4 linked regions of the Homo sapiens genome follow. The protein of the gene in region 2 interacts with the protein of the main gene of each other region in a pairwise test. Each region holds a gene or a part of one and is shown on either strand. Other genes may lie near its edges.

Evidence for each region.
Region 1: the proteins of CLRN1 (region 2) and TMPRSS4 interact in binary tests that used the Homo sapiens proteins (3 or more experiments, as listed by UniProt).
Region 3: the proteins of CLRN1 (region 2) and TMEM50B interact in binary tests that used the Homo sapiens proteins (3 or more experiments, as listed by UniProt).
Region 4: the proteins of CLRN1 (region 2) and FAM24B interact in binary tests that used the Homo sapiens proteins (3 or more experiments, as listed by UniProt).

The regions. Positions count from the first base shown.
Region 1 is NC_000011.10:118,114,371-118,122,293, forward strand, and holds the end of TMPRSS4 (transmembrane protease serine 4), read left to right. Parts: intron 1-458; coding exon 459-557; intron 558-767; coding exon 768-910; intron 911-2,934; coding exon 2,935-3,084; intron 3,085-3,531; coding exon 3,532-3,543; 3' UTR 3,544-7,520; downstream 7,521-7,923. UniProt on the Homo sapiens protein: Plasma membrane-anchored serine protease that directly induces processing of pro-uPA/PLAU into the active form through proteolytic activity.
Region 2 is NC_000003.12:150,962,440-150,970,362, reverse strand, and holds part of CLRN1 (clarin-1), read left to right. Parts: intron 1-7,923. UniProt on the Homo sapiens protein: May have a role in the excitatory ribbon synapse junctions between hair cells and cochlear ganglion cells and presumably also in analogous synapses within the retina.
Region 3 is NC_000021.9:33,476,445-33,484,491, forward strand, and holds the start of TMEM50B (transmembrane protein 50B), read right to left. Parts: upstream 3,531-8,047; 5' UTR 3,394-3,530; intron 1-3,393.
Region 4 is NC_000010.11:122,875,980-122,884,115, forward strand, and holds the start of FAM24B (protein FAM24B precursor), read right to left. Parts: upstream 3,603-8,136; 5' UTR 3,506-3,602; intron 1-3,505.

The sequences.
Region 1 (7,923 bases), on a different chromosome or scaffold from region 2:
CAGGGACACCCGGGGAAGCAGCTGGGTCCACCAGGAGGCAGGAGTGAGGGGAAGGCATGGCCCAGAGCCACCTGTGGCTTCCATGGGCAGGTCTGGCCAAGGTAGGGTAGGCAAGATTGAGCATGCTCAGGATTGGATAGTGTGGACAATTCTCTAGGCTATAGATGTCAGCCTCTGGTTGTCTAGTATCTGTCCCTGGGGTGATTTAGGGCAGGGAAAATATTGGCTTGGTGTCTGAGAGTCAGATAAAGGAAGTGGTTGGGGATATGGGCTTTGGGTTGGCTGGTTTGCCTATTAAAGGCGTGCCCAAAGCCAAGTTGTTTACTATCTGCAGGAATTAGCTAACCCAGTCTCTCCCAGACCAGCAAGATCCCCATAATCATAAAGCATCATAATTTACAGAAAATTAACACTTATGATGAATAAAAGATCTCCTTCTTCCTCTGTGCTCCTGGCAGGCACAGTCAGGCCCATCTGTCTGCCCTTCTTTGATGAGGAGCTCACTCCAGCCACCCCACTCTGGATCATTGGATGGGGCTTTACGAAGCAGAATGGAGGTAAGTCCTGGGTGCAGGACCACAGGGCAGGAGATGCCCTTGTATGAGGGAGCAGCTTCCAGAAGTAATGGGAAGGAGGACCACCCTTCAGAGAAACCCATCCTGGAGGACCAAGCACCAAGGCGCCAGGCAGAAAGCAAAGTGGTTTGGCAATCCAGGGCTGGGGGATAGAAGGCAAGGATGGGAATGTGAGTGTTTTTACCCTCCCAGGGAAGATGTCTGACATACTGCTGCAGGCGTCAGTCCAGGTCATTGACAGCACACGGTGCAATGCAGACGATGCGTACCAGGGGGAAGTCACCGAGAAGATGATGTGTGCAGGCATCCCGGAAGGGGGTGTGGACACCTGCCAGGTGGGGCCTCCAAGAATCATGGGGAGTTCTAAGAATAGGGTTTAGGTCCTAGAGAGATGAGAAAACCCAGAGGCTGCATGCCCTACAGGAAGCCTTGCATATCATGGGCACTCAATGTGTGATGATGGGAGGAAGAGAGGGAGGGAAGGAAAGGATAGTCAGATAAAAGTGTACCAATAGATGAGTGGGTGGATGGATGGATGCAGACAAGCAGAGAGATTTCAAATGTCTCTTTCACATTCGAAGATGATGTTACTGGCCTGGCATGGTGGCTCACGCTTGTAATCCCAGCACTTTGGGAGGCTGAGGCGGGCAGGTGATTTGAGGTCAGGAATTCAAGACCAGCCTGGCCAACATGGTGAAATCCCATCTCTACTAAAAAGAATACAAAAATTAGCTGGGCGTGGTGGCACGTGCCTGTAATCCCAGCTACTTGGGAGGCTGAGGCAGGAGAATTGCTTGAACCCAGGAGGCAGAGGTTGCAGTAAGCTGAGATTGCGCCACTGCACTCCAGCCTGGGTGACCCAGCAAGACTCCATCTGAAAACAACAACAACAACAAAGATGACATTACTCATCCACCCCACCCACCCTTCTCACTAGCTACAGAATGATTAGCCCCTTGAGGTCAGGAATCCCAGGTCTATTTTCTCTGTGACTCTCCCCAAGCTGCTGAACTACACTAGGAAAGAATTACCGCCTGCAGAATGCTGGAAGCACATCTGTGTGTGCCCTCACCCCGGCCTCATTGGCCATCAGGACTGCTTAGCAATCCCTGTAGACCTTCTTCCTCCCCCATACTTCCAGAGGATCTTCTGAACTATTTTCTTTTTTTATTTTTTCTTTTATGTTTTTTAACAGAGACAGGGTCACTATGTTGCCCAGTCTGGTCTCAAACTCCTGGGTTCAAGGGATTCTCCCACCTCAGCTTTCCAAAATGCTGGGATTACAGGCATGAGCCATCGTGCTTGGCCTGAACCATTTTCATTAAAACCCCTACCCTACTCTCACCTCCATTTCCAGTCATTAAATTCCTTCATTTAAGAGGCATCTCTTAGTCATCGCATGTGTGCCATGAACATGGTAGTCTTTGGAGACCCCTCAGGGAGCTCACAGTGGTTGGGGGAAAGGGGGGCATTAAACAGACATTTAAGCTATAGTTTTGGGTTCAGAGGGAGGAAGCCCCAGGGGCTAAAACAGCTGATAAGGACTCCCAGATAAGTGCACTTTTCACTATCTGGCATTTTCTTGTTTTGTTATTTGCTTGTTCACTGTCTCTCACCCCATTTGATCCTAAGCTTTCTGAGGGCAGGGATCTTTGTTTTTTTTCATCAGTTGGATCCCAATTGCTTAGAACACTACCTGGCACAAAATAGGCACTCTATAAGTGATTACACAAATTTTGGAACGACTAGGTTAAACAATGATAACCAGGCTTTTTTTTTTTTTTTTGAGACTGAGTCTCACTCTGTTGCCCAGGCTAGAGTGAAGTGGTTTGATCTCGGCTCACTGCAGCCTCCGCCTCTGGGTTCGAATGATTCTCCACCTCAGCCTCCTGAGTAGCTGGGATTACAGGTGCCTGCCACTATGCCCAGCTAATTTTTGTATTTGTAGTAGAGACGGGTTTCACCATGTTGGCCAGGCTGGTCTTGAACTCCTGACCTCAAGTGATTCACCCGCCTCAGCCTCCCAAGGTGCTGGGATTACAGGTGTGAGCCACCGCTCCTGGCCAACAACCAGGCTTTTTTAAGACATCACTCAGAGCCTTTAATTTGCTAATGTGAGTTGTGAATCTCTGAGAGAAGGCTAACGGCATGCTTGCAACTTACTTGTCCACAGACAAGCCTTTCTGCCCCAGAAGAGAAGACCATTCTAGGGTGCTAATGAGCAAAGAGGGTGAGGGTGGAATATCGGAGAGCAGCAGGGAGTGCAGGGGAACAGATAGGCCAGTTCAGGGAGCAGAGAAGGAGAAGCCCCCCCACCTCACCTGCCCTCCCCAGCAGTCTCTGTTCTGGTCTCTCACAGGGTGACAGTGGTGGGCCCCTGATGTACCAATCTGACCAGTGGCATGTGGTGGGCATCGTTAGTTGGGGCTATGGCTGCGGGGGCCCGAGCACCCCAGGAGTATACACCAAGGTCTCAGCCTATCTCAACTGGATCTACAATGTCTGGAAGGTAAGGTACCTTTGCCCTACCCACTGTGCCTTCCCTCCAGTCCTCTACCTGGGGGGTGCCAATCCATCCTCAGGTTTGATTTAAATGGTTCTGACAACTCTTTACATCCCAAATAACTTTCCCTCCAAGCAAGGGACAGCCTGAGATTGCACTATTAAGGCTGAAATTCCTTAGGTCAGAGATTTCTGATAAATGCAAATACCTTAGGGAATAGAACACACCAAGCCTTTCTTTCTCTTTTCTGACAGAATGAGACTATCAGATCCTTTCTAGAGAGAAGATTCTGATAAGGAAGAGAGTGGAAAGGCTCATGAGACCTCCTGGCCCTCTGCAGGGTAGGGAGAGAAGCAAAGTGTTTCAGAAAAGGAAGACTCACGTTACACATGTCACCACTTTGTCCAGTTTCAGATAATCTGACTTTCTCTTCATCGGTCTCTCTTATTCTAGGCTGAGCTGTAATGCTGCTGCCCCTTTGCAGTGCTGGGAGCCGCTTCCTTCCTGCCCTGCCCACCTGGGGATCCCCCAAAGTCAGACACAGAGCAAGAGTCCCCTTGGGTACACCCCTCTGCCCACAGCCTCAGCATTTCTTGGAGCAGCAAAGGGCCTCAATTCCTATAAGAGACCCTCGCAGCCCAGAGGCGCCCAGAGGAAGTCAGCAGCCCTAGCTCGGCCACACTTGGTGCTCCCAGCATCCCAGGGAGAGACACAGCCCACTGAACAAGGTCTCAGGGGTATTGCTAAGCCAAGAAGGAACTTTCCCACACTACTGAATGGAAGCAGGCTGTCTTGTAAAAGCCCAGATCACTGTGGGCTGGAGAGGAGAAGGAAAGGGTCTGCGCCAGCCCTGTCCGTCTTCACCCATCCCCAAGCCTACTAGAGCAAGAAACCAGTTGTAATATAAAATGCACTGCCCTACTGTTGGTATGACTACCGTTACCTACTGTTGTCATTGTTATTACAGCTATGGCCACTATTATTAAAGAGCTGTGTAACATCTCTGGCATAGGCTAGCTGGAATGCTTGATAAGAACTGAGCTGGGATGATTGAACTTTCATTCTTTGGCTTGGGGAGAAAAGAAGTCCTGGGGAAGCAATTGAGTCTCAAAGTAGAGGCAGGGGAAAAAAGAGTTAGGGAGACCAGATCTGCTGAGTGGCAGCAAGAGTGAGCTGCAGATTACAGAAACCAGGGTGAGCAAGTTTGAGTCCCACACAGGGCCTTCTCCCTTTGCCTCTTTCCCTCCCTCCCTGCCTGTGATAATCAGCCAGGAGCCAGGGATAACCTATGACTTGGGAAAGAGATGAGTTAGGCAGTCAAGGGTGACATTCAATCAGGGATCCACAAGTGGCTGGAAAGAAATGCTGGTCCTGTGTCCTAACTTTTTCCGCCTGGAGAGCCCTCAGTGTGGCTTCTTACATTTAAAAAACAAAAAGGATCAGCTGCCAGGTGTGAGGCAGTCCCCAAGCTGAGTTGTGAGGATGTAAGCATGAATAAGTCCCTGCACTCAAAATGGTCAAAGAATTAAACCCCATGGACTTTTTTGGCATCTGTATGAAAGCTTGGGTTTTCTGAGGACTGTCTTGCTATAGTTAAGTCAGATCCTAGATGAAATATACTTGTTCATACTGTACTAGGTTCTTAGGAAACAACAGAATTCCTCAAATGCCAAAAACAAAGAAAATAGAAACCCAGAAAACAAAACAAAATAAAACAAAACCATCAGAACTGTGAGTGGAAACTAAGGTGATGATCTGGGAGCAATACACTAAAATCTTGGGTCGAGACCTATATGAAGGCTGGCAGTGGAGCTAAACCTGGACACACTGAAGACAAGGGAGCTGAACCAGGGCTCCTACATGAAGCAGGGATAACTGATGGCAGTAAATGTGGTCTCAAATTGCAGATGGTCTGGAGGAAAATTTCCCAAATTTAGAGCCTCAGGATTCCCAAAGATCCTCCAAATATGAGCTCACAATCAAAGATCAGAGACGTTGAAAAATAAAAAACACCTTAAGTGGGCAGCATAAAAAACAGCTAATTTAGAACCCCAAAGGCTTCAGATGTCAGAATATTAGAGACTTATGATAATAAGCAATATTTGCAGAGTATTTGTATGTGCCAGACACTATTGTAAGTGCTTCATCATGTACTGATTCATTTAATACTCACAGAAATCTGTGAGATGGGTATTATTCTTATCCTCACTCTATGGATTAAAAAAACTAAGGCACAAAGTGGTTAAGCTCCTTGCCTGAGATTATAGACTGTAAGTTGAACGTGAGCACTTGGAATACAGAGTTCATGCTGTAAACTACCACACTATAGGGCCTCCAATATGATAATTTATAAAATATTTGAATAAAAAATGAATACTAGTTCCACATTTTAAAATCATGTTTAACTGTGGTCAAATGCACATAACACAAGTTGCCATCTTCACCATTTTTAGGTGTATAGTTCAGTGGTGTTATGTACATTCACACTATTGTGCAGTCATCACCACCATCCATCTCCAGAACAGAAACTCAGTACCCATCAAACAACTCTCCATTTCCCCCTCCTCCCAATCTCTGGCAACCACCATTGTGCTTTCAGTCTCTGTGAACTGGATTACTCTGGGTACCTCATTTAAGTGAAGTCATGCAGTATTGGTCTTTTTGTACTTGTTTTATTTCACTTCACATTGTGTCTTCAAGTTTCACCCATGTTGTAGCATGTGTCAGAATTTCTTCCCTTTTTAGACTAAATAATATTCTATTGTTTATACGAACATTCAGGTTACTTCTATCTTTTGGCTATTGTGAATTATGCTGCTGTGAACATGGGTGTACAAGTATCTCTTTGAGGCCCTGCTTTCAATTCTCTTGGGTATATTCCCAGAAGTGGAATTGCTGGATCATATGGTAATTCTATTTTGAATTTTTTGAGGAACTGATATATTGCTTTCCATAGAGACTGCACCATTTTACATTCCCATCAACAGTTTGCAGGAGTTACTATTTCTCCATATCCCCCCTAACACTTGCTATTTTCTGTTAAAAATGGATATCTTAATAATCAAGCAAAAATAACAGGCAGATTTGAAAAAGAACTGAATACAGCTTTTAGAAATAAAAACTATAATTATAAAAATAAAAAACTAAGTGGATGGGGTAAATAACAATTAAAACACCAATTAAGAGAGAACAAATGAACTGGAAGATAAATTGAAGAAGTGACTAGGCTTAACAGCAGAGAGAGATAAGGAGATTAAAAATATGAAAACAAGGCCAGGAGCAATGAAGCCTAGAATGGTAAATTCTAACATATCCAGAATCCCAGAAAGAGAGAATCAAGACAATGAGAGAGAGACAGTACCAAAGAGATAAGAGCTGAGAATGTTCCAGAATTGATAAAAGGTGTGAATCCACAGAACATACACCACCATAGTGTACACGCATACAACCAAGGTGGAAAAATTAGAATAAATCCACACCTATGTACATTATAATGAAACTGCAGAACACCAAAGACAAAAAGAAACTCCTTATAGCAGCAGAGAGAAAACCCAGACCACCCACAGTACCACAAATCTACCACAATTAGACTGACAACAGGCTTTCCCACAGCAATAAAGGAGCTAGAAGTCAGTGGAAGTATATCTCCAGCATGCCAAAAGATAACAATCAATCAGGGATTGTGAACCCTACAAAACTATCTTTCAAGAATAAAGGCATTTTCAAGAAAACAAAAACAGACTTTACCATCAACAAACCTTCTCTAAAAGAATATATAAAGCATTTACTTTAGGAAGAAGGAAAATGATCCTAAAAGGAAGAACCAAGAAGCAAGTAGCAATAGTGAGGCAATTGTGAAAATGTAGGTAAGTCTAAACACACTCTGTCTACTTCTTCTTCTTCTTCTTCTTCTTCTTCTTCTTATTTTGAGACTGAGTCTTGCCCTGTCACCCAGACTGGAGTGCAGTGGCAGGATCTTGGCTCACTGCTATCTCCACCTCCCAGGTTCAAGTGATTCTTCTGCCTCAGCCTCCCGAGTAGCTGGGATTACATGCACATGCCACCATATCCGGCTAATTTTTGAATTTTTAGTAGAGATGGGGTTTCACTGTGTTGGCCAGGCCGGTCTCAAACTCCCGACCTCAAGTGATCCCCCCGCCTCGGCCTCCCAAAGTGCTGGGATTACAGGCGTGTCTACATATTATTAAAATAACAATAATATTTATTTTGTGGGTTAATTTTTTTTGAAACAGATATTGAATTTATTGGTTGGCTATGAGTAGAAAAATACATCAGTAAAGAAAAAAGACCCTGTATATAAATATAATACTAGCTAGTTAAAATTTGACCAAGAAGTTTCCATTGTGGGTTAATTTTTAAAGGCCTAACTGAAATATGGAGTAACCACAGCATGCAGCATGTAAATTAAAGGGGATAGCTGGAGTTAAAATATTCTGAAGTTCTTAAATTGTCCAAAAGGAGGGTTAAATATTAATGTTATGTTACATAAAATGTTTGTACTATGTTCTAGATGGTTAGTTAAAAGAGTAATCACCAAAAGAATGGAAATAAAAGTGTGTCACTTCCAAAACAATTGAAAGTAGCAATTGATGAATAAAAAACAAATACATCAAGCAAGTACAAAAGAGAAAGGAGGGAAAGGAAGAGCACTAAGGAGGGAAAAGCACAGAAAAATGGAACAAATAGAATATACAAAGTAGGATAGTGAAAAAAGTACTAATAATCGCAATAAATATTAAACTCACCAAATAATATACAGAGATAGGCAAATTGGATAAAAATGTAAGATCAAGCTATATGTTATTTGTAACAGACATACACAAA
Region 2 (7,923 bases):
CATTGCACCCTCAAAGTTTACACTCCCATTGCAACGCAGCTTTGTGGTTCACGTTTTTTCCATTCAGAATGTCATTACCCTGTCAATGATGTTTCATCAACGTTTGCTTGGATGAGAATCCTCTGATATTCTTCCTGATAGAAATGTATAAGCCCTGTTCATATAAATGAATAAAAGATCTAACCTTACTTTCTCAGTAGTGGCTTCCTTGGAGCAAAAAGCAGGGACCTCCAGAGAGCTCAGGTGGATGACTCTTTTCTGTTTCTTCCAGAGCTCAACTTACAATTAGTGCACAATTCATTTCCCAGAATGTCTTCTTTCTTATTGTGCCTTTAGAAAGTTATTAAGCAAACATTTGAATTCACAGAATCTTACCAGTGTAAGAGGAATGGAAAAGGTAACTTATCAAGGTAACAATCACTTCGTGGCCAGTTTTTTCGGCTCACTGCAACTACCCCTCCTGGGTTCAAGCGATTCTCCTGCCTCAGCCTCCCAAGTAGCTGGGACTACAGGCGTGCACCACCATGCCCAGCTAATTTTTTTTTTGTATTTTTAGTAAAGACAGGGTTTCACCATGTGGGCCAGGCTGGTCTCATGGCAAGTTTTCTTTGTGTTGTCATGTTATTATCAATTAATAGGAATTTATATTTCAGTTCTGTTAGGTGGATAAACACTATTTTGCATACCTAAATGTTTCATTTATATCAGCACTGGCCAATAAAAATATACTATAAGCAGGCCGGGTGCAGTGGCTCACGCCTGTAATCCCAACTTTTGGGAGGCCAACACTTTGGGAGGACACAGGGTCAGGAGATCGAGACCATCCTGGCTAACCTGGTGAAATCCCGTCTCTACTAAAAATACAAAAAATTAGCCGGGCGTGGCGGGGGCGCCTGTAGTCCCAGCTACTTGGGAGGCTGAGGCAGGAGAATGGCACGAACCCGGGAGGTGGAGCTTGCAGTGAGCCGAGATCTCGCCACTGCACTCCAGCCTTGGTGACAGAGCAAGACTCTGTCTCAAAAAAAAAAAAAAAAAAAAAAAAAAAAAAATATATATATATATATATATATTACAAGCCACAAGCCACATATGTACTTTTAAATGTCCTAGTAGCCATATTAGAAAACAAAAGTAAAAAGGAATAGATGAAATTAATTTTAATGATTTTTTTAAACCCAAGATATCCAAAATATTATCATTTTAACATATAATTAAAAATTTATTGAGATGTTTTACATTGTTTTTTTTTTTCTTGACGCTGTCTTGGAAATCTAGAGTGTATTTTACATTTACATTACATCTAATTCAGTCTAGCCACATTTCACATGCTCATTTTTTTGTGTGTGGTTTTATGGAGCAGAGAGTTTAATAGGCAAGAAAGAAAAGAGAAGGCAGAAGAAAATGGCTCCCCTGTACAGAGACGCGGGGGTGGGGCGCTCCAAAGCCAAAAGAGGAGGTCCCTAAGTATGGTAGACACCAGCCAGGAATATATGCAGTGTCTGGAGGAGGGGATGTCTGATTTGCATAGGGTCACATGCTCATTTTTATGGCTACTGTATTGGTCAGTACAGATTTAGATGGGGATTTGCTCTGAACAAGTTGGTGATTGATGGTGTTCATATTTTAATTGAATTTTTCCTGGGTTCTGCTGTACACTTGTATGTGTGTTAGTTTCATGTGCAATGCTTGTGTCACTTTTAAAACCCAGATATATGGCATAACATGAGAATGAAAAATGGACCAGAAAAATAGTTTGGCAATGTAGTCATGTTTGTTCCTATTAAATGTTCCCTATTGACCACTCTATCTCTTTTAATTATAACAAGAATCTGCCCTGCCAGCATGCCCAGTTACGCTGGGAAAACTTCTGCCTCATTTACTCTGGCTGATTCTCATCCACTTATGGGTCAGTGGTTCATTTTCTAGAGGTCACCAGCATTCATACCTAGCATACAATTTCATTCATTATAATGAAGGAATGTTTTCCCTTCAAAGAGACACAACTAGTGGGCTTAATTTTTCTTGATATGTCACCTGTAAAATTTTAATGATGATGTTTAAACTCTAAATGTAGCCATCAAGACAAAAACTGCAAATTTTGAGCCTCAGTGTGTGTGGGTGGGTTTCTGTTTCGGTAATTTGAAACATTGCAGAATATCATCAAAATATGATACCCAAGAATCATATGGTATCAATCATTCCTAGATATACTGATCTATTCATTGCCAAGATAGTTCAATGAGCTGGCAAAAACATATGGAATTATTTTCTTAAAATGTGAAAAATAAAATTTAACCAATCATGTATCACAGCTTGCAACTTTAGTCATACTTTGAAAAGCATTTTAATTTGGACCTCATGATTGAAAATTTATAAAAAGCTGAACAGAAATTAGTTCACTTCATATTTTAGAAAAGCAGAGTTTCTTTACTAAATGAGGCATTTGACCCAAATTGGAGAGAAAATGTTGAAACTACTTCTGTGAGCAAGCAGGTGGCTTCTCAAACACATGTTGGGATGAAATGGTTGGGCCTCAGGGTCTCAGTGCCTGTCACTGAGAGTTGGCACTCTCTATCTCCATGGTCTCCTCCAAGTGTGACTCTTGTCTCTTGCTGACCTGACCTGCCCCAAGTGACTCACTGGTCATGACCCTGCACACCTTGCGTCTCTCCTATCACCCTGCCGATGGCAGAGCTACAAAGGTCTTTGATGTAGCTCTGTCTGATATCCTGTGTTTCCCCCTATGGTCTGTGTGGAAGCAGGTATGGGGGTGTGTAAAGGGGAAGCCTATGAAGTTCATCTGCAAAGACTACCTGGTTAGGGGAGGAGAGGAAGAAGCTATATGCACCATTTCACCAGCAAGCATGGGCTCTTCTGCCTTTTAGCTTAGGGGTCCTGTTGTCTAGTCTCACTCACCTATTAAAACAGTCCAGCAAATAGAGGTTTTGTTTACCTCCCATTAAAAAAAAAGCAATTAATGGAATAGAAGATAATAATGTATGAGAAGCACTATTGTGAAAGAAAAACCTTCAACTTCTCTCAGCCAAATAATTGCTTCCTCCTCTGTCCTTCCCAGACCTTGATGTTTGCTCTATTATTTCAAAACAACTATATTATAAATATTTGAGAATGTGTATTTCCCTGCAAGGAGATCTTAATCCCCAAGAAGGCAGGAGCTGTGTATTATTCATCCCAGTGCTCCTTCAAACCAGGGCCTCAGACAGTGCATGGCCCAAAGAGGTACTTAATAAACGTTTGGTAAACTGACACTATTGAAATTAAGCAACCTGGATTTGAGGTGGGTCTCTGCCACTCACAAGAGATTACGCTTTGAGAAAATTCCATCACTTCATTGATTTTCAGTTCTTGCATCTGTATATGGGAGACGATACTAGGTGATTTCTGACATCTCTCACCGTTTAAATGCTCTGTGATCTATACAACGAGGGGCTCGCTGTTCTAGACAAGTTCCTTCCAGCTTTACAGTTGCATAACCCTTCTAATCTTAGTCACATGATGACTCCACTGACAGATTTTTGGCCACCATCATTAGACATGCTGAGTTACGTGTGCCTTTGCTCTGATCCTCAAAACTCATGATTTTTAAAGTTTTCTGAAATATCTACCATTTATCAGGATCCAGATGGATTTCATGACCAAAGTGGATGTTTCTTTTCTCTCCCATTACAATCTTTTACTTTTTGTGTGGGAAATTGCATGTTAAAGAAAGGGAAATTGAAGAATGGGATGCTTTGGAATTCTGGCAAGATGGATTAGTGGGTTCCAGAAAGTAGGGGCAGCCACAAATACCGAAATAAATGAGATCGTATTATTGAGAAAGCACAAATGGAAGAAGGTCAAAAGCAAGAAGAAGCTGACATCCTGCTTCCTCCAATTTTTGCTTTCTCTGTTTTTCCAAGAAACTCCTCTTCCAAGCCTTGCTGAAAAACTCCACTTTCCTAAATCTAACTTCTTAAACTGATAATGGCAAGAAGTTAGGAATGACCAATATGTTTAACACTCCAAGAGTATTTGTTTTGTTTTGTTTTGAGACTGGGTCTCACTCTGTCGTCCAGCCTGGAGTGCAGTGGTGTGATCACAGCTCACTGCAGCCTTGACCTCTCCTGCCCAAGGAATCCTCCCACCTCAGCCTCCTGAGTAGAAGGGACCACAGGCATGTGCCACTACACCTGGCTAACTTTTAAAAAATTTTTTTGTAGAGATGGGGTTGCCCAGGCAGGTCTCAAACTGCTGGGCTCAAGCAATCCTCCTGCATTGGCCTCCCAAAGTGCTGGAATTATGGGCATAAGCCACTACGCCTGACCTCTCCAAGGGCATTCTTTACCCAGAAGAGGAACTTGGCAGAACTTATCCTCCAATTGGTGAGGAATATGGAGAAAATGACTTTAAGCAAAGGAACTTCTGGTTCTGCCTACCTAATCCAGAAAAAGAAGTTTTATTTCTCCCTTCCCCTAGTAACTATCTTCCCATATTCACATAAAAAAGTACAGAATCAACATTGTTCAAGAATTATAATTTTACTTGTAAGCACATGTGCACACGCACACCCATATACCTTCCTTCCCTTTAAATCATCCCACACCCTAATAGTAGTAAAATCATTGACCCGAGCATACCTGGGAGAGGAAGAGGAGTCTGACAGGGGCAGGTTCTAAGTGGCACTCCTGGAACTTAACCCTGGTGTATATGAACTTTACCTATTGAAGGATGACTCCTCAACTGTTCTCACAATTTGCTGCTCTGCTTTCTTTTCTAATTTCTGAAGGTGACTCATCTTCCCCAAGGACTTTCAGACTTCTCAGAAGAAAAAAATATTGGGTGGGTCTCTGCCACTGGCAAAAGATTAGACTTTGAGAATCATAAAAGTATATCAGTATATACTCATTAATATTGAATTACTATAATTAATATTATGATATTGATATAATGATAGAATGATATTGATAAAAGCAATATTCAATAATGAATATTATTTCAGCTGCCCACTTATTGGGTGCCTCATAGGTGCCAGGCATTTTGTATGTATTATCTACAACCCTTACATGGGACATATTATGATGCTGTTTCTCTTGAAGAAATATGGAAACTGGAAACAGAGAGGTCACCACAATTTTCCAAAGTCACATAGCTAATAGGTAGCAGACTTGGGATTCAAATTCATATGCATATGGTAAATCATGCTCTTCCTCTGCTACATTTTGCCCCCTTAGAATATGAAAAAGGGATACAAAGAGATGAAGAAAATATGTAAGATTATCCTTCAATTTCACTATCTTTTTTAAAGTTTTTTTTATTATACTTTAAATTCTGAAATACATGTGCAGAACATGCAGGTTTGTTACATAGGTATACACGTGCCATGATGGTTTGTTGCACCCATCAACCTGTCATCTACATTAGGTATTTTTCCTAATGCTATCCCTCCCCTAGTCCCCCACCCACCGACAAGCCCCGGTGTGTGATATTCCCCTCCCTGTGTCCATGTGTTCTCATTGTTCAACTCCCACTTATGAGTGAGAACATGCGGTGTTTGGTTTTCTGTTCCTGCGTCAGTTTGCTGAGAATGATGGTTTCCAGCTTCATTCATGTTCCTGCAAAAGGCATGAACTCATTTTATGGCTGCATACCATTCTATGGTATACATGTGCCACATTTTCTTAATCTAGTCTATCATTGATGGGCATTTGGCTTAGTTCCAAGTCCTTGCTATTGTGAACAGTGCTGCAATAAACATATGTGGGCATATGTCTTTATAGTAGAATGATTTATAATCCTTTGGGTATAGACCCAGTAATGGGATTGCTGGGTCAAATGGCATTTCTGGTTCTAGGTCCTTCAGGAATTGCCACACTGTCTTCCACAATAGCTGAACTAGTTTACACTCCCACCAACAGTGTAAAAGCGTTCCTATTTCTCCACATCCTCTCCAACATCTGTTGCTTCCTGACTTTTTAATGATTGCCATTCTAATTGGAGTGAGATGGTATCTCAGTGTGGTTTTGATTAGCATTTCTTTAATGACAAGTGATGATGAGCTTTTTTTCATGTTTGTTGGCCGTATAAATGTCTTCTTTTGAGAAGTGTCCGTTCATATCCTTTGCCCACTTTTTAACGGGGTTTTTTCTTGTAAATTTGTTTAACTTCCTTGTAGATTCTGGATATTAGTCCTTTGTCAGATGGGTAGATTGCAAAAATTTTCTTCCATTCTGCAGGTTGCCCGTTCACTCTGATAATAGTTTCTTTTGCTGCGCAGAAGTTTTTTTAGTTTAATTAGATCCCATTTGTCAATTTTGGCTTTTGTTGCCATTGCTTTTGGTGTTTAGTCATGAAGTCTTTGCCCACGCCTATGTCCTGAATGGTAATGCCTAGGTTTTCTTCTAGGATTTTTATGGTTTTAGGTCTTATGTTTAAATCTTTAATCCATCTTGAGTTAATTTTTGTATAAGGTATAAGGAAGGGGTCCAGTTTAGTTTTCTGCATATGGCTAGCCAGTTTTCCCAACACCATTTATTAAATAGGGAATCCTTTCCCCGTTGCTTGTTTTTGTCAGGTTTGTCAAAGAGCAGATGGTTGTAGATGTGTGGCATTATTTCTGAGGCCTCTGTTCTGTTTCATTGGTCTCTGTATCTGTTTTGATACAAGTACCATGCTGTTTTGGTTACTGTAGACTTGTAGTATAATTTGAAGTCAGGTAGCGTAATACCTCCAGTTTTGTTCTTTTTGCTTAGGATTGTCTTGACTATTCAGGCTCTTTTTTGGTTCCATATGAAATTTAAAGTAGTTTTTTCTAATTCTGTGAAGAAAGTCAATGGTAGCTTGATGGGAAAAGCATTGAATCTATAAGTTACTTTGGGCAGTATGGCCATTTTCATGATATTAATTCTTCCTATCCGTGAGCATGGAATGTTTTTCCATTTGTTTGTGTCCTTTCTTATTTCCTTGAGCAGTAGTTTGTAGTTCTCCTTGAAGAGGTCCATCACATCCCTTGTAAGTTGTATTCCTAGGTATTTTGTTCTCTTTGTAGCAATTGTGAATGGAAGTTCACTCATAAGTTTGCTCTCTGTTTGTCTGTTATTGGTGTATAGGAATGCTTGTGATTTTTGCACATTGATTTTGTATCCTGAGACTTTGCCGAAGTTGCTTATCAGCTTAAGGAGATTTTGGGCTGAGACGACAGGGTTTTCTAAATATACAATCATCTCATCTGCAAACAGAGACAATTTGACTTCCTCTCTTCCTATTTGAATACGCTTTATTTCTTTCTCTTGCCTGTTTGCCCTGGCCAGAACTTCCAATACTGTGTTGAATAGGAGTGTTCACCACCTATTTTAAGAATAGTATTGAAGCCTCACAAAAGCTGGTTCTCATGTAACCATCTGAGAATATTTGGCCTTATGACTTGAATTCATTCATTGCCTTTTTATTTCACATTTTAGTGATCCTGATGTCTAAATCTTAATCTTTGATCCTTGCAAGGTAAAATAGCCAAGTCAAGCCTGTTTAATAATATTGGTTGAGGAAGTCACATGCTTATGATCAATCTTTGGGTTATGTAATTATATTACCTTAATGTTGGCAGTTTAGGTGTAAGGCAGAGATATCTGATCACATGTGTGGTTAGCTAATTTAAGATCACTGCCAACTAAAATCTTCATGGTATGATCTTCAAAGTTAGCTACTTTGACCACAGCAATGATTTCACCACAGCAATTAACAAAATGGCAGACTCTTTCCTGAGGTGGCATGAACAGTTTTAAAACAAAGTCAAGGACCAAAAGAAAAGCAGGCACATGGCATTTGATTCATTTCAAAAACTAGTATTGTATTAAGAGCCAAGGGGATAGAATTGTAGCATCAATTAAAATCTTGTTTGAAAAAAAATAAAAACAAACGTCCATTTTT
Region 3 (8,047 bases), on a different chromosome or scaffold from region 2:
ACTGCTTTTAAATTATAAAATCTTTTAAGTTATAACATCAGGCGTGGTGGCTCACACCTGTAATCCCTGCACTTTGGGAAGCCGAGGCCAGCGGATCACGAGGTCAGGAGATTGAGACCATCCTGGCTAAAACGATGAAACCCCGTCTCTACTAAAAACACAAAAAATTAGCTGGGCGTGGTGGAGGGTGCCTGTAGTCCCAGCTTCTCGGGAGGCTGAGGCAGGAGAATGGTGTGAACCCGGGAGGTGGAGCTTGCAGTGAGCCGAGATCGCACCACTGCACTCCAGCCTGGGCGACAGAGTGAGACTCCATCTCAAAAAAAAAAAAAAAAAAACAACTTTAAGTTTAAAAAGATTCCTTGTGAAATAAAATTATATCAAAGTACAATCATCTGTTTATATTATCTACTTGAAACTTACCCTAGAACGACAAAAAGATTTTCATAAAGCAAAGCTTTTAATGGCTAAAACCCAGAAACAGTCAAAATGTCCATCAATAAGGAACCAAAAAATGTATATTAGGGTACATCCAAACAACGGTATACCATGCAACATTCTGAAAATGAGGCAAGTTGGCTGGGCAGGATGGCTCACACCTGTAATCCCAGCACTTTGAGAGGCTGAGGCAGGTGGATGGCTTGAGTTCAGGAATTCAAGACCAGCCTGGGCAATATGAGAAACCCGTCTCTACAAAAATTACAAAAATTAGGCATGGTGGCACTCGCCTATAGTCTCAGCTTCTCAGGAGGCTGAGGTGGGAGGATCGTTTGAGCCCAAGGCTGCAGCAAGCCGTGAGGGAACCACTGCACTCCAGCCTGGGCAACACAGTGAGACCCGGTCTCCAAAGTGAGGGGTGGGGTTGGGAGGAAATGAGGTAGGTCTCCACGTGCTTATGAAGGAAATGTGTCCTTATATTATCATCAGTTGCCGAGCAATATTATAATATAATACCCTCCTAGGGAATGGAATTGAGGATGTAAAGAGTGAACAAACAAGGAATTCTAACTTGACATACCTCTGCGCTGTCTGAATTTTACTTGATATTCTTCTGTCATGTTTAAATGTTTTAAACAACCTGAATGTTACTTTAATCATTTAAAAAGTAAAACGGGCTAGGTACGGTGGCTCACGTCTGTAATCCCAGCACTTTGGGAGGCCGAGGCGGGGGGGGGTTACCTGAGGTCAGGAGTTCGAGTCTCTACTAAAAATACAAAAATTAGCTGGGCGTGGCGGCGGGCGCCTGTAATCCCAGTTTACTTGGGAGGCTGAGACAGGAGAATCGTTTAAACCTGGGAGGCGGAGGTTGCAGTGAGCCACGATAGCGCCATTGCACTCCAGCCTGGGCAACAAGAGCAAAACTCGGCCTCAAAAATTATATATATATATACATAAGTTAAAAATAAACTTTAGGCCGGGCACAGTGGCTCACGCCTGTAATCCCAGCACTTTGGGAGGCTGAGGCAGGTGGATCACGAGGTCAGGAGATCGAGACCATCCTGGCTAACACGGTGAAAACCCGTCTTTACTAAAAATACAAAAAATTAGCCGGGCGTGGTGGTGGGCGCCTGTAGTCCCAACTACTAGGGAGGCTGAGGCAGGAGAATGGCGTGAACCCAGGACGTGGAGCTTGCAGTGAGCCGAGATCTTGCCACTGCACTCCAGCCTGGGAGACAGAGCAAGACTCTGTCTCAAAAAATAAATAAATAAATAAATTTAAAAATAATAATAATACACTTTAAAAGGCCAGGCGCGGTGCCCACACCTGTAATCCCAGTACTTTCAGAGACCGAGGCAAGCGGATCACTTGAGGTCAGGAGTTCAAGACCAGCCTGGCCAACATGGTGAAACTCTCTCTCTACTAAGAATATAAAAATTAGCCAGGCATGGTGGCAGGCGCCTGTGATCCCAGCTACTCGGGAGGCTGAGGCTGTAAAATCCCTTTAACCCTAGAGGTGCAGGCTGCAGTGAGCAGAGATCGGGCCACTGTACTTGTAGCCTGGTCAACGAGGGAGACTCTGTCTCAAAAAAAACAGAAAAGGAAAATGAGGATAAAATACGATAAATTCTTTACCTTGGCCCCCAGAAGTGAATTCAGAATTCAGAAAAGACTAGCCAGTGTAAGGCTGCTGTAACCCTAGTTGACAGAGAGGAGGGATTGGGGTGGTGAGTGGGAAGGCTGTGTCTCCGGAAGAAGAAATATACGTCCCCACCTCACTCTAATTAAACCTGCTTTTCCAGCGCGATAAATATTCAAGATAACTTTTGGTTTGCATTTCAATAACAAAGTCTTGCACCACTATCTTCAGTTTAAAAAAAAAGTTTAATGTTTGCTCTACGTTTGAAATGCATGCAGGTTTAAAAGACAAGAAACAAAATGATGAAAAAGTGTGACCGGCCTGAGAGTTCAGAGCCTCTGAAGTGTCAAGGGATCCACAGTGCAGGTAGGATGAAGAGTCTGAGAAGGGAGATGGGATCCTCCGAAAAGAGAAAATCGGGTCTTACAGCGCGATGTAAGACGATGCGGATGCCACTTCCCTCCCACCCCGTCCCGTCCGAGGCCTCCGCCCCCTGCCCCTCCGCACCCCCCGACCCAGGCACGCGCAGCGGGGAGCAGCCCAGCCTAGCCCGTCTCACTGCTTTGGTTTTGAAAGGTCACGTATTTACCTTAGAATTTCAGCACCTTCCAACTTACTGTTTTAAGTACCTTTAACCAGCCTATTGGCTAAAAACCGAAACGGTCCTACCCGCGACTACCACTGCTCCAGTGACAATGCTCTGCTGCTACTTATTTAACGGAGCTCAAGGTTTATAATTCTCGAAAGAATGTTGTTCCCCTTCCCTTTCCCCTCCCGCCTCTGTACTTGACTCTCGTAAGAATGAAATCAGAAAAGTGCAGAAAACACAGGCTCCTAGCAATGGTTCGGGGCAAACGGGAGGGGCGAAGAAGGGCTGGAGCCGCCCCGGGGCCCTCGCTCCGGCCTCGGGAGGGCGTCGCGGCCGCAGCAGGGCGTCCCGAAAACCGTCGCCTCCGTGCCCGCCGCGCGAGAAGGTGAAAGGCACGAGATGGAGCCTCTCCAGCCCTCCCCAGGAACGCAACCTGACGGCGTGACAGCGCGGCAGGGCAGCCTCCCCGGGCTGCTTGCGGGTCGCGGCGGCGCCACGGTCACGGTCGGCCCGAAGGGACGCGGGCAGGGGCAAGAAGGGGCGGCGGGGGCTCCGCGGGCCCGAGTCTGCAGGCCGGCGCCGAACGCAGGGAAAACCCGGCTGGACGGCCCCACAGCCCCCAGAAGGCCGGGCCGGACAGGGCCCGACGAGGGAGCCTCCTTACGCGCGGGCGGCGGGCGCGAGCCCTCTACGGTTGCCTGGCGCCGGAGACCCACAGACAGGACTCACCCAGCTTCCTCAAACGCCCACGCCGACTTCAGGCGCGCGCGCAGGAAGGAGACTGCTGCGCCACAACCCTGCCGGCGTCCCGCGGCTCCACCTCAGCCCCGGGAGCCCGGAGCTGGGAGCAGACGCGAGGATAGAGCGCCGGTGAGGCGGGGCGAGGCGCCGTGTGCACCGCAGCGACCAATCGGAGCGCAGCAAGTGGCCGGCCGGGGGCGGGGCGGGACGCGAGGGGGCGGGGAGAGGGCGTTGGCTGGGCGCAGCGGGACGCCGGGCGCTCCTCGCGACCAATCGGCGTGCAGCAAGTGGCCGGCCGGGGGCAGGGCGAGCTCCGAGGGACGGGGTGGGCTGCTCTGCAGGCCTCCCGGAGCCGGAGTTCAGACCCAGCTATCTACGGTTCCGGGCAGAGCGGGACGGGCCTCTCCTGTCCCCTGCCGGTGGGCGGCCGCCGCCGGGCTCCCACTGCTGCGTTTCTGCACGCTGACTTGAAGTGCAGTACCGTGAGATTACGTGCGGACGGAGCTCGAGACCCGGGGGACCAGGGTTTCCCTTCGCCTATGGCCGATCAGTCTTGTCTGTCTGCGAGCTGCCCAGAGTAGGGAAGGTGCTCCGGGAGGGTTCTCGGGAACGGAGGGTCTTTAGAGATGCCTTTTTCTAATCCCCTCAATTCAGAAATGGAGCCCCAGAAAGTTGAAGTTAGTAAACCAGGGCTACCCAGCGAGTGCTGGTTACCCGAGGTGATCCTCACAATACAACTAGTCTTCTGATTTCGCTCGGCGCTCTCCCGTCTATTCACGTAGATTTTTGTCTTTTTTTTTTTTTTTCGTCTTTCTTATAGTCAGATATCTTTCAGCCTCTTGGATTTTCAACATAACTTTAACAGCGTTTGGAAGCCCCGTCTAAATTTCCTACAGAAATGCCTATAACCATTTAGTTGTTTGGGGGAAAGTCGAGCTTTGTTTTTTGGGTGGTTTGTTTGTTTGTTTTGAGACAGGGTCTTGCTCTGTTGTCCAGGGTGGAGTGCAGTGGTGTGATCTTGGCTCACTGCAGCCTCTTACCTCCCACGCTCAATCAATCCTCCCACCTCAGCCTTCCGAGTAGCTGGGATTACAGGTGCGCACCACCATGCTTGGCTAATTTGTGTATTTTTAGTAGAGACGGGATTTCACCTGGCTGATCCTGAACTCCTGACCTCAGGTGATCCACCCGCCTCTGCCTCCCAAAATGCTGGGATTACAAGCGTGGGCCACTGTGCCCAGCCAAGTAGAGTTATTATCAGTGGAAATCTAAAAAGCATTTTACTTGAGGCATAATGAAGTAAAAGGTTTTGTATCATGGAATTATCACCAAAAATGCCATCCTGGATAATGTTCTCCTATAGCTCTTATACATGGGCTAGGATCTAGGTGTTCAATAAATATGTGCTGAATAATTTACTTTTGAAATATGTCACAATGCTGGCATTCCACCAGAAGAGAGGATACAGAAGGGAACACTCTCCTCTCTTTAAGAACCTTTTGAAAGGGGCGGGGGTTGCATGTACCATTTTTGTTTTCATTCTGCTAGTAAAATAGTCACTTGACTACACCAAATTGCAAAGAAGGCTGGAAAATGGGGTTTCAGTACTAAGGAAGGAAAACTAGATATTAGGGGACAATTAGAAGTTTCCAAATCTCATCACTTTTTTTGGGGGGGTGGGGGAGGCATCCCAAAGGGCAGACTGGTTTATTAGGCAGCAGCCAGGAAAATCAGCGGTTGGACTTGTCCCCACACTCCAGCTCATCCTTCTTGTTGATGGCATAGGAGCTGGAGGAGGCCTTGGTGGCATTGATGAGCTCATCCGCCAGGCACTCAGCAATGGTCTTGATGTTCCAGAAGGCAGCCTCACGAGTGCCTGTGCACAGCAGCCAGACGACCTGATTCACACAGTGCAGTGGGGACATGTCCACAGCCTGTTGTCTCACAGTCCCTGCTCGCCCAATGCATGTGGAGTCCTCCCAGGGACCACTGTTGATGATGGCGTTCACCAGGACCTGGAGAGGGTTCTCGCCTGTGAGCAGGTGGATGAAATCGAAGGCATGCTTGATGATGCACATGATCATGAGCTTGTTGCTGTTGTTGCAGCCGTGCATCATCATGGAGTTAGTGAGGGGCTCCACAATGGGGCACTGAGCTTTGCGGAAGCATTTGGCTGCATACCACCCAGCACTGTGAGGCAGGTACTTGGCATACTTCTCCTTCACTGCAGTGTAATCCTGCAGGGAAATGCCATTGATCTGCATATCATCAGTGCTCCACTTCCCAGAGAGCTTGATGTCAAGGGGTCTCTGCCACTGCTGGTGCTGCTGTCTCCCACTCGGTCATCCTGAGGGCACAGCCTGAGTGTCTCTGTCGATCAGCATGGACCACATGCTGCCCTGGCACAGACAGGCCATTGCTTTTTAAAGTACTAATATTTTAAGGTTTCCCAGGATTTTTTTAAGCTTTGTTACAGAATAATATCTGTAGAAAAATGATTACCTCCATATATGAAGGAAGACATTACTGTTCACCTACCGTTGGGATGCACATGCTTTAAGTTGCTTTTTTAGTAGTGGAGACTTATGTTAATGCAGCTTGTCTGAAGTCCTTTTCTACTGCTATAACAGAATAACACAGAACAGGCAATTTATAAACAATAGTGTTTTATTTGGTCCACAGTTCTGGAAGCCGGGAACTCCAAGAGCATGGTGCTGGCATCTTGTAAGGATTTTCATGCTGTGTCATCCCATGGTAGAAAACAAGACAGACAGGGGCCAACGAGCATACAAGACAGAAGGAGAAAATCAGGCTGACGCTATCCTTTTACCAAGAGCCCAATCCCAAGATAACTAACCCACTCCCACAATAACAGCATTAATCCATTCGTGAGGGTGGAGCCCTCATGACCCAATCACATCTTCAAGGTTCTACCTCTCAACACGATTACAATAGTAATTAAGTTTCAAACACATGAACTTTTTGGGGACACATTCAAACCATAGCACAATTTGCTTCTCTCAGTCTATAAACCTCTATTCCACAAAGAGTCAAACATGTATTTAGTTATGCTTTCAAAAATATGGGCATTTGGCCGAGCACAGTGCCTCACACCTGTAATCCCAGCACTTTGGGAACCAGAGGCGGTTGGATCACCTGAGGTCAGGAGTTCCAGATCAGCCTGGTCAACATGGTAAAATTCCGTCTCAACTAAAAAGAAAAAACAATTAGCTGGGCATGGTGATACATGCCTGTAATCCCAACTACTCAGGAGGCTGAGGCAGGAGAATCACTTGAATCCGAGAGGCAGAGGTTGCAGTGAGCCAAGATCACGCCACTGCACTCCAGCCTGGGCGACAGAACAAGACTCCGTCTCAAAAAAAAAAAAAAAAAAGGCATTTGAAAGATACGGGGATTAAGTTGCTGATGTCAACATTTCGCTGTCAATTCCAAATGTACTGATTTAAGTATTTAGTAGAATTGTAAATCAGCCTTTAAAAAAAAAAACCACACATGGCCGGGTGCGGTGGCTCAAGCCTGTAATCCCAGCACTTTGGGAGGCCGAGGCGGACAGACCATGAGGTCAGGCATTCGAGACCAGCCTGGCAAACATGGTGAAACCCCGTCTCTACTAAAAATACAAAAATTAGCCAGGCATGGTGGCGCTCACCTGTAATCGCAGCTACTCAAGAGGCTGAAGCAGGAGAATCGCTTGAATCTGGGAGTCAGAGCTTGCAGTGAGCCGAGATTGCACCACTGCACTCCAGCCTGGGCGACAGAGTGAGACTAAGTCTCAAAAAAAAAAAAAAAAAACCACACATTTTCTAATTCAATTGGTATTCTACCATGTAGCTACTGAAGCATATGTTTTGTTAAATTCCTGTTACCCAAGCACTTCAGAGAGGCACTCCTAGATTCTGGAGACATTGTGACTTCAGGACCATTTTCAGGTTTGGGCCAGGACAGGTTCTGAAAGATCTACTTCACCTAAAACTAGACAGAAAATGCAGTCCAGTTGGTACAAGCCTATTAAGAGAAAGGAACAATCCAGGCTGTCCTTCACGCTACGCCCCATGGGTTCTAGTTTATTCTCTCTCAGGGCTGCTTCATGAACTTACTCTGATAGAGTGGTATTCACGTCCATCTTTTGAGTGTACAAGCCAAATGTGTACCACAGGAACTATCTGAAAGGCTAAAACATGTTGCATAAACAGGTACTTCCCAAAATATTCTCTTTCTCCATATGCTTATGTGGTTGTATAACAAAAAGATTCATCTGAATAAGTCTTAGGCAGCTATTAGAACTGTTGTATTTTGATAAAGGTGTCTTGAGACTAAGGTCATACTTCCTGTGGGTCTGAAATGGACTCTCTCCTGAAAGGATGGCTATTCAGTGTCAGTCATTTAGGAGAAAAGACTGATCTTTAGATGGGAAACAAAAAACCAAGGCCTGGAAGATAATTTGACTCCAGCAGAAGAGGAAATACTTCTTTCCACATCTAGACTCTGAAGACAGTGTATACATTTGTCAGTTGGTCTCTTTCAGTTATAAGTAACAGAAAAGAACATCTCAAACTGGCTTAAATAATGAGTAGGATTCTGTGGCTCATGGAACTGGAGGATCAGAGTTATCATGGGTGTT
Region 4 (8,136 bases), on a different chromosome or scaffold from region 2:
GCATGCAGACAGCCCACCCTGAGGGAAGAATTAGCAAGAAATAATGCAACCCTGGAAGCATGTCAACATGTAAGACCCAAAATCAAAGGTCCAACCACGCACTTGATCTCTCAAGGCGCTTGCTTGGCCCTCTTCCAAGTGTACTTTTACTTCCTTTTGTTCCACCTCTAAAGCTTTTAAATAAATTTTTCCTTTTGCCCTAAAACTTGCCTTGGTCTCTCACTCTTCCTTATGACCCTTGGTCGAATTCTTTCTTCTGACAAGAATTGAGGTTGCTGCAGCCCCCTGCAGATTCACTACCACTAACAACGGGAAGGCTAGAGGGGGCTGGAATCTTCTAATTGCCCTTTCCCTAGAACAGATAAGGCTCTGGTAAAGTACTTTCCCTTGAGAGAAGGCTTTTGTTAGGGAAATGCTGAGGGCAGTTTTCAAAAAGGTTACTTTGCCCCCTCCTTCTGCACAAAGCAGGAGGGAGTTTTAATCCAATCCTTGTCCTAAGAATCTGCTGCAGCTCTGAAAAGTAAAACTCCCAAAAGTGTAAGGGCACCATATGAGTGGTCTCCCAGGAGTTTCTAACTGTCAAGCTAACTCACACTCAGCATCCAGCAAGTCATCAATGACCATTTTAAGTGTTCCTACCATTTGCTGCCTCATGAGGATTTCTGTTCCTAGCATGCTGATATCAGTTGTGATTTTCTGTATTTGCCTACCCAGTTTGGGGGTGGCCATTTGCTTTGTGACCTCCATTATCTGATGGATATTTTAAAGGCTGTTAATGTTCCATTTGTTCAGCTTTTTTCTTGTGAGGACAGTTGTGATTGACTTCTAAGTGGTTTACGTGTCACAGATGAAACCAGAAGTGTTAAAAAATAAGAAAAGAGCACACAAAAACAAAAGCTTTCTAGAATATTCAATATTTTGAGGGTAAAAGGTCCTGGGACTAAAGTGTTTGATTGCCACTATGCAAAGGCACTCTGTTAGCAACAGTAGATACATATATGATTCTACTCTAAATTCTACAAGTTATATATAATAAACTTCTCTTTAAAACAGTCAAGCCAAAAAAATACATTGTGATATTGGTGGAAAGATTTCAAAGATATGCCTTATTCTTTATTTCAAGTGAAAAAATAAAAATAAAGCAAAAAATACCATTTGCCATTCACGACAAGAGTAATTTACATTAAAATTGAGGTCACCTAGGCACCAGCACAACACCCTGGCTTTGTAACCATCTGAAGGGTTCTTCCTGCCTGCTACACAAAGATCATGGCATTGTAGTAAAGAAAGAGTTTAATAGACATAAGGCCAGCCACAATTCTCATCCAAAGCTTATAGGTTAGGGATTTTTCAGAGGCAGTTTGGGGGAAGTGGTGGAGGTCGCTAGGCTTGCTGCTGATTAGTTGGGGCAGAGATGAAATCACAAGGGGTGAAGCTGTCCTCTTGCACATTGAGTCACTTCTGGGTGGGGCTGTAGGAATGGTGGGTGTCAGACATGCAAAAAAACCCTGAAAAGATATCTCAAAAGGCCAGTCTACAATAGTGGTGTTATCTGCAGGAATAATTGGGGAAGTTGCATATCTTATAACCTTCTGAATAATAACTGATAATAGTTCATGTCTGCACCTTAGCAGGACCCAGGCTCCTCTCCTCCTGCCAGCCTGATGCAAAAGCAGTTGAGTTTGGGGGAAGGCCTATGATAATTTAAACTATAGCCTAAATGTCCCAAAAGCCCAAGAATAATCAAGGCAAGACTGGGGATGGATTAGCTCAGATCTCTTTCACTGTCATAATTTTCTCACTAACTTTTGCAAAGTTTTTTCAGCTTTGAAAATAAGATTGAATTTGCCAGTTTCACCTCTTTCTACTCCTGTTATACTGTGATAGAGTTCCCAAACAACCCCTATTGCTATCTCTATCAATTCCATACAACAAACCTATACTCAATCTCTACTAGGCACAAAACAATTCCTATTTTCAACAACTGTACAGATGGTTGGGAAAACAAATGTGAGAATTATTTGGTAAAGCTCCATACCAGAAGAGAATTATAGTATCTAAAAACTCTAAGTGTAGCAGAGAGAAATTACTGACAAATTCTCTCACAGTGTGGAGGGCTGTGCTTGGCACTAAATGATGAACAGGATTTTTCCTATCCAAAAGAAGGGGCATTCTAGGTAGAGGGAAAAGCATGTACAAAAGCTGGGGGGTCTAGGAGGCAGGCAGAAGTCAAGGATAAAGGGCTTTGTATGCCTGTTAAGAAGTAATGGTGGCCAGGTGCGGTGGCTCACGCTTGTAATCCCAGCACTTTTGGGAGCCGAGGCGGGCGGATCACTTGAAGCCAGGAGTTTGAGACCAGCCTGGCCAACATGGCAAAACCCTGTCTCTCCTAAAAATACAAAAATTAGCTGGGCCTGGTGGTGCACGCCTGTAGTCCCAGCTACTCAGAAGGCTGAGGCAGGAGAATCGCTTGAACCCAAGAGGCGGAAGTTGCAGGAGCCGAGATCACACCACTGTACTCCAGCCTGGGTGACAGACTGAAACTCCATCTCAAAAGAAAAAAAAAAGTAATGGTGATGGTGATTCAGTCAGAAAGCATCAAGCATCAGGACAATTGATAAAAGATTAGAGGGCAGTGCAGAAAATGAAACGCAGGTGAGGAGATAATGACTATCAACCAGTAAAGAAACTCCTGGAATTGTTCCGATGAAAGCTAGTATTTCAAAACAGAGAGGCAGAGATGGAGAAAGACAGGGAAGTTTTTCTTTAAAAACCAAAAATAAAACAAGACTGGGTGATAATACTGAACATACGAGATTGAAAGAAAGGGGAGACGACAAAATGCTGTAGGCTTTCTGCCTTATTTAAGGAAGTCAAAATCCAGCTTATAGTATTGATCTTGCTCATGAAGTTTCAGATAGGTAATTCTAAAAAGCCTATTTTCCTTTAGACTGTCCAATTATGATGACATGTATCAAAGTTAACTTATGACTACAATGGGCTGGGCATAAAGAACAGGAAGTCTGGTGTACACAACTTAGAATGCATCTGGAGTACAAAAGGAAGAAAGAGGCAAGATCTACTTCCTATTCCATGGGGCATCTGGAAAACTCCCTCAGGCGACCGCTCCATCCAAACACCTGGGATCTTTCTCAACCTTCTGATTTCTGTCACGAGGGCATCCAGCATAGTCCTGGCAACGCCGTAGGATCAGGGAGCATCAAATGAGATGGCACCTGGGGAAGGCCCGTGTGGCCCAGCGTCCACCACTAACGCCGTTCAATATCTACCTCAACTCCCCTCTAACGCGAGAATGTGTATGAGAGAGGCAGGGAGAGTTCGGAGTAAAATTAACCCGAATGGACAGCGCTTCCGCCGCGTTCGCTGCCACAAATGCTGCAGACCCGACGGAGTGGAGGCAGAAAAGGCCCTGGCGTCCACTCGGGAAAGAACGAGGTCAGGAGTCGGTCCTGCACATCGCGTAGAGCGAAGAGACGACACCTACCTGACCATAGACGCTCCCCATCCGCCCAGCAACCGTGGTCCATGCTGCCTGCGTCCACCGCCAGCGTCGAAAAACCGCCGTGGTGCCCGCGCACAGTGCACCGCGCCTGCGCATGGTCTCCAAAGGCTGAGCGAGGGCCTGCCAGTGCGCATGCTCCGCTCTTTAGCGCTTCCTGAGCAAAGTTTGAACGCCTCTCGAGTCCAGTTGGCTTATGCGCATGCGTTTCTCTGGTGCAGGTTCTCACCAAATCCAGAAGCGGCGGGCATTTGAAATGATGTAAGCCGGGAGTCGCTCTGCCTGCCCGTTTCTGCGCTGCACTGGCCGACACTTAAGCACTGGAAGAGAGGCCTGGCAGGAGGCGGCGCAGTGGACACGCGGTCCGAGGACGGGGGCCTCACCCGCCGCCCCACGCTTGCCTCTTCCTGGGATGCCGCAGGCGGGGCCCTAACTCACAGCCTCCTCACCCGGGCTCGTGTCTGCGCCCGCGACTTCGACTGGGAGGAGCTTCTGGCGCCACCTGCGCCACGGTGCGCCGGGCCGCCGGCGACCGGGTCGCTGCGCTCGGCGACTGCCGCGCTCCTCGGGGAACGTGAGGGTCTGAGTCCGGGATCCAGGAGAGCAGTTGGTGTCGGGTCTCTGCGGGGGAGCGGGGCTGCGAGGTGGAGGCGAGGACCGGGGTGGGCGGAGGCGGGGTAGGTCTGGCCGGGAAGTACCCGAGGCCCCGAGGCATGAGCGGGGGAAGGTGACCAGGACTTGGAATTTCATAAACGTCCCCGTCAGGCGTGACGGGTCGTCAGGGCTGCTATCAAAGTCAGTCCGCCCATCTACCCTCAAACAAGCCACCTCCTCTCCACCAAAACAGGCTGTGTAAAAAGTCCAGCTATAGACGACCGCCGTCGACTTAATTTCGAAAAAGATACACTTTGTCTTCTATTGTGTTCTGCTCCTACTCCTGTGCACACAGTAGGTGTCCAGTAATGTATCCGAGAATCAATTGCAGGGGACTGAGTAGAACGTTGATGATTGAGGAAAAAATAGAGGGGGAAGCCCTGATGTGTGATGCCTCCATTTCCTTATGAATTCTGTGTTGAGCATTTGTTAGAATAAACCTCATGGCCTAACAAGTGGGTTTTGAGCCATGTTCAGAAACTATACTGTGTGATGTTTTCACCTGTTTTCTTCTCAGCCAGAATCTGGTGATTTAGAAGAGAAGATTGAACAACCAAGATGAAAACCCCTGCTTCCTTTACCTGAGGTGTGGCCCTGATGGAGGTGAAGAAATCGCTTCTATTGGCATTTTAAGTTCAGCAAGAAATATGGAAGTGTACTTAGGAGAGGAGTACTGTGGAACCAGTAGGGGCAAGAATGTTTGTACTGTCTTGGATGACAGTTGTGTGACTTGTACACGGGAAAGTGTTCTCCTGAATTGGTGTCTTTATTCTGTTCACCTTTTGCAATATTGATTGACTCTCTGACATTGATGTTTACATTAGAGAAGAGAAGATAAAAACCTACTATGGCATAGAAGGTTAGACCATTAAAGCATCTTCTAGGCAATCTAGTTCAGCTTCCTCATTTTTAGGAATGCAGAAATTTAGAGCTAATAAAGGAGAGGTGAGCCTGGAGAGGGTCATACTAGTTAAAGTGTCCAGGCAAGAGTGCAGTCCTTATTGCTGCTTCTTGACTCTCTCCATAAACTCACAATGGTCTGTTTTCCAGAAATTAATTTGACAGTCAGTCTGAAACTTTGATCACATATTTTTTAAGGAACCTACAAGCCCAAGGTGGTGCCACACCAGCCTATTTAGTCCATATTCAATGTGTTATAGTTTGATCTTTTCCCTAGTCCCTTATAGGAACATTCTACACTAATCGCGCCTTAATATAAATCAAAACGTCAACTATTTTACATATTGTGCATATTGGAAATAATAAATACACGACACAGGGTTATTGACCAGGTCACTTGAGAAGGGATCTCAACTGTTTGTCCCCTACCAGGCAAACTGAATCTCAGGATTTAAGTAATGGCCTGGAAACAATTTTTTTTTACTGCAGCTGTTTAAACTGATAATTTATATAAGTGAAAAAATAATTTTTATTCTATTTTCAGTAAACGCGAAATTATTTTCTACAAAAATTACTTAATATTGGCATCCTCCACTCATGCCTGTAAAATAAAGGTAGGTCATCACTAAATTTTAACTAATTTGACAATTGCAAATGTATGTATAATATACTTATGTACTGTTGGTTTGTTCATACAGTTAGTCCAACTTAGTCCTTGTTTATCTTTATATGAAACTATGGTGCCAAGAAAACCACGTTTTGTCCCCATTATGTTTAAAAAGACAAGAATTAGAGAAGTTGCAGAGAAAAGCACCTAAAAGCTATTTGGACTGGTACCCTGAATATGAAAAATATTGTTGAGGTGAACTTTAGTGATGTCATCAGAGTTAAGAGTACTGAGCTACAAATAGCCCAAGGTATTAATGCAGTTCTGTTAGTTACTGCCTGAGTGACCTTGGGAAAATCTCTACATTTCTTTGGACCTACCTCATGGGTAAATTAGAAGACTAAAGAAAATAAAGCATTGTATTCTTTTTGTCTCCACATTATACAGGGTTGTGAGACTTACTTTAAGGAAAAAGTTGGCCGGGCATGGTGGCTCATGCCTGTAATCCTAGCACTTTGGGAGGCCGAGGCAGGGTGATCCCTTGAGCCCAGGAGTTTGAGACCAGCCTGGGTGGCATAAGGAGACTCTGTCTCAAAAAAGAGAAAAAAATAAAAAGAATAAGGAAAAAGTTAATGATTTTTATAGCAGGCAAGTAACAAACTTACAGATCAGATTGTTCCAAGACATTGTTTTAGGTAGTATATATTAATCGCTTCCAAAGTCATTTAAATAAAGTGATTTATTCAACAAATATTTGAGTGCCTACTGATACCAGATACAGACTGTAGTAGGCATTTAGGAAGCAGCAGTAATAAAATGGAGCAACTACCCTTGTGTTGCTTATATTCAAATGGGATGAGACAGGTAATGAGCACACTCTGAATAAAATTGTGTTTTGTTTGGTGGTGAGAAAGGCTATAAGGATTAAGAAGCAGAAAGGGGATAAGAGAGAGGATGAGAGGCGACTGTTTAAATTTAACAGTGTTTTCTTAATTGTGAAGGATGGTCACATCTTTGGTGCCATGGGTCTGAATTGACCTGTGTCTTTGGGTTACATATGGTTCTGTGTGTCTCTCTGAAGATGAGTATTTTTTGTAACTATTCTATGGAAGTATATGTGAGTGCAAAGGGTCATTTCATTTAGGAAAATCCCAAGCCTACTAAAGCTTATTCTGAGGCAGCAGAATATGAAAGTTACAAAAATAGTTACTGATGAATATTTTCAAATACTTACTCATTGGAAATTTTAGCACATAATCCCAACCACCATGTGAAATCACTGATATGATCCTCCCTCATGTTAATTCTGATTTGTGTTTTGGCATTTGTCCAGGATCATACAGGCTATACAGAGCAGACTCATAACTGAACTCTGGTTTATCTCATTCTAAATCCTGTTTCCTTTCCATTTTGATACTGTTTTTGGTGCCACACATGAAATGTCTTTTGGTTCATAAACATGAATGAAGAGAGGCAGCATAAAGCATTGGAGAGGGCACTGTTATAACAGCCAGGAGAGCTAGGTTCTAAGCCTGACTTTTACTAATTGGGTAATCCTTTGACAAGTTAGAAAATTACCTCTAACTTCATCTTTTTAAATGTGTAAACCAGTGGGTTACGTGAGACCATCTTGACCCTGCCTTATAATTCTAAATGGCTCATTTATATTTAGTAATTCAGTAAACACTTTGGATGGGCTTCTGAACACCCTTATTTTGTATTAAAGAATATTATAGTAAGCAGCTGTGTGTTAAAGTCTCAGATTGGCATAGTCTATTCTGAGTTGCTTAAATAAATGAAACTTTAATTTTACCTTCTTTCATATATTTAGTATATTTTTTTAGTTTGAAAATGACATTGTCTTATATAAATTGTTCTTCTGAGTTTCATAATAAATTGAAACCTCTGACCATTACTGTATTAGGGAAAACTTGAAAATATATTTAAAGTTTATATTTGTTTTCCTGAATACTTTACTCTTGTTGATAATACAAAGGAGTGACCTTAAATAGTGAATATTGTTTAATATTATTATTTATTTTCCTGAACTTTGTATTGTAATAGTTGCGCTCCTTTGGTGAAAGACAGTGTGTGTTCATCAGTAAAGTTGTGATACACATGAGAGCAGTTTCAGCAAATTATTCAACAGGCTCTCCTGCTGTAAAATCAAGAATAGAACTAGACAGGATCCAAACCATAATGGAGTCCATGGGGTCAAAGTTATCTCCTGGAGCTCAGCAATTGATTAATATGGTTAGGTTTCAGCAGTGGGTAAGTAGAAATGGATGACTTTCCAGATACCATTAAAAATTATAAGTAATGGCTTTTTATAAATACATGTAGTGATGTAAATTTTTTCTTTGAAATTTTGTAATTGATTTAACTGTTATCTTTATTTACTTGTGTAAAAAATAACATTTCATAGACTTGCCCTCCTACAAAATATTTTGACTAC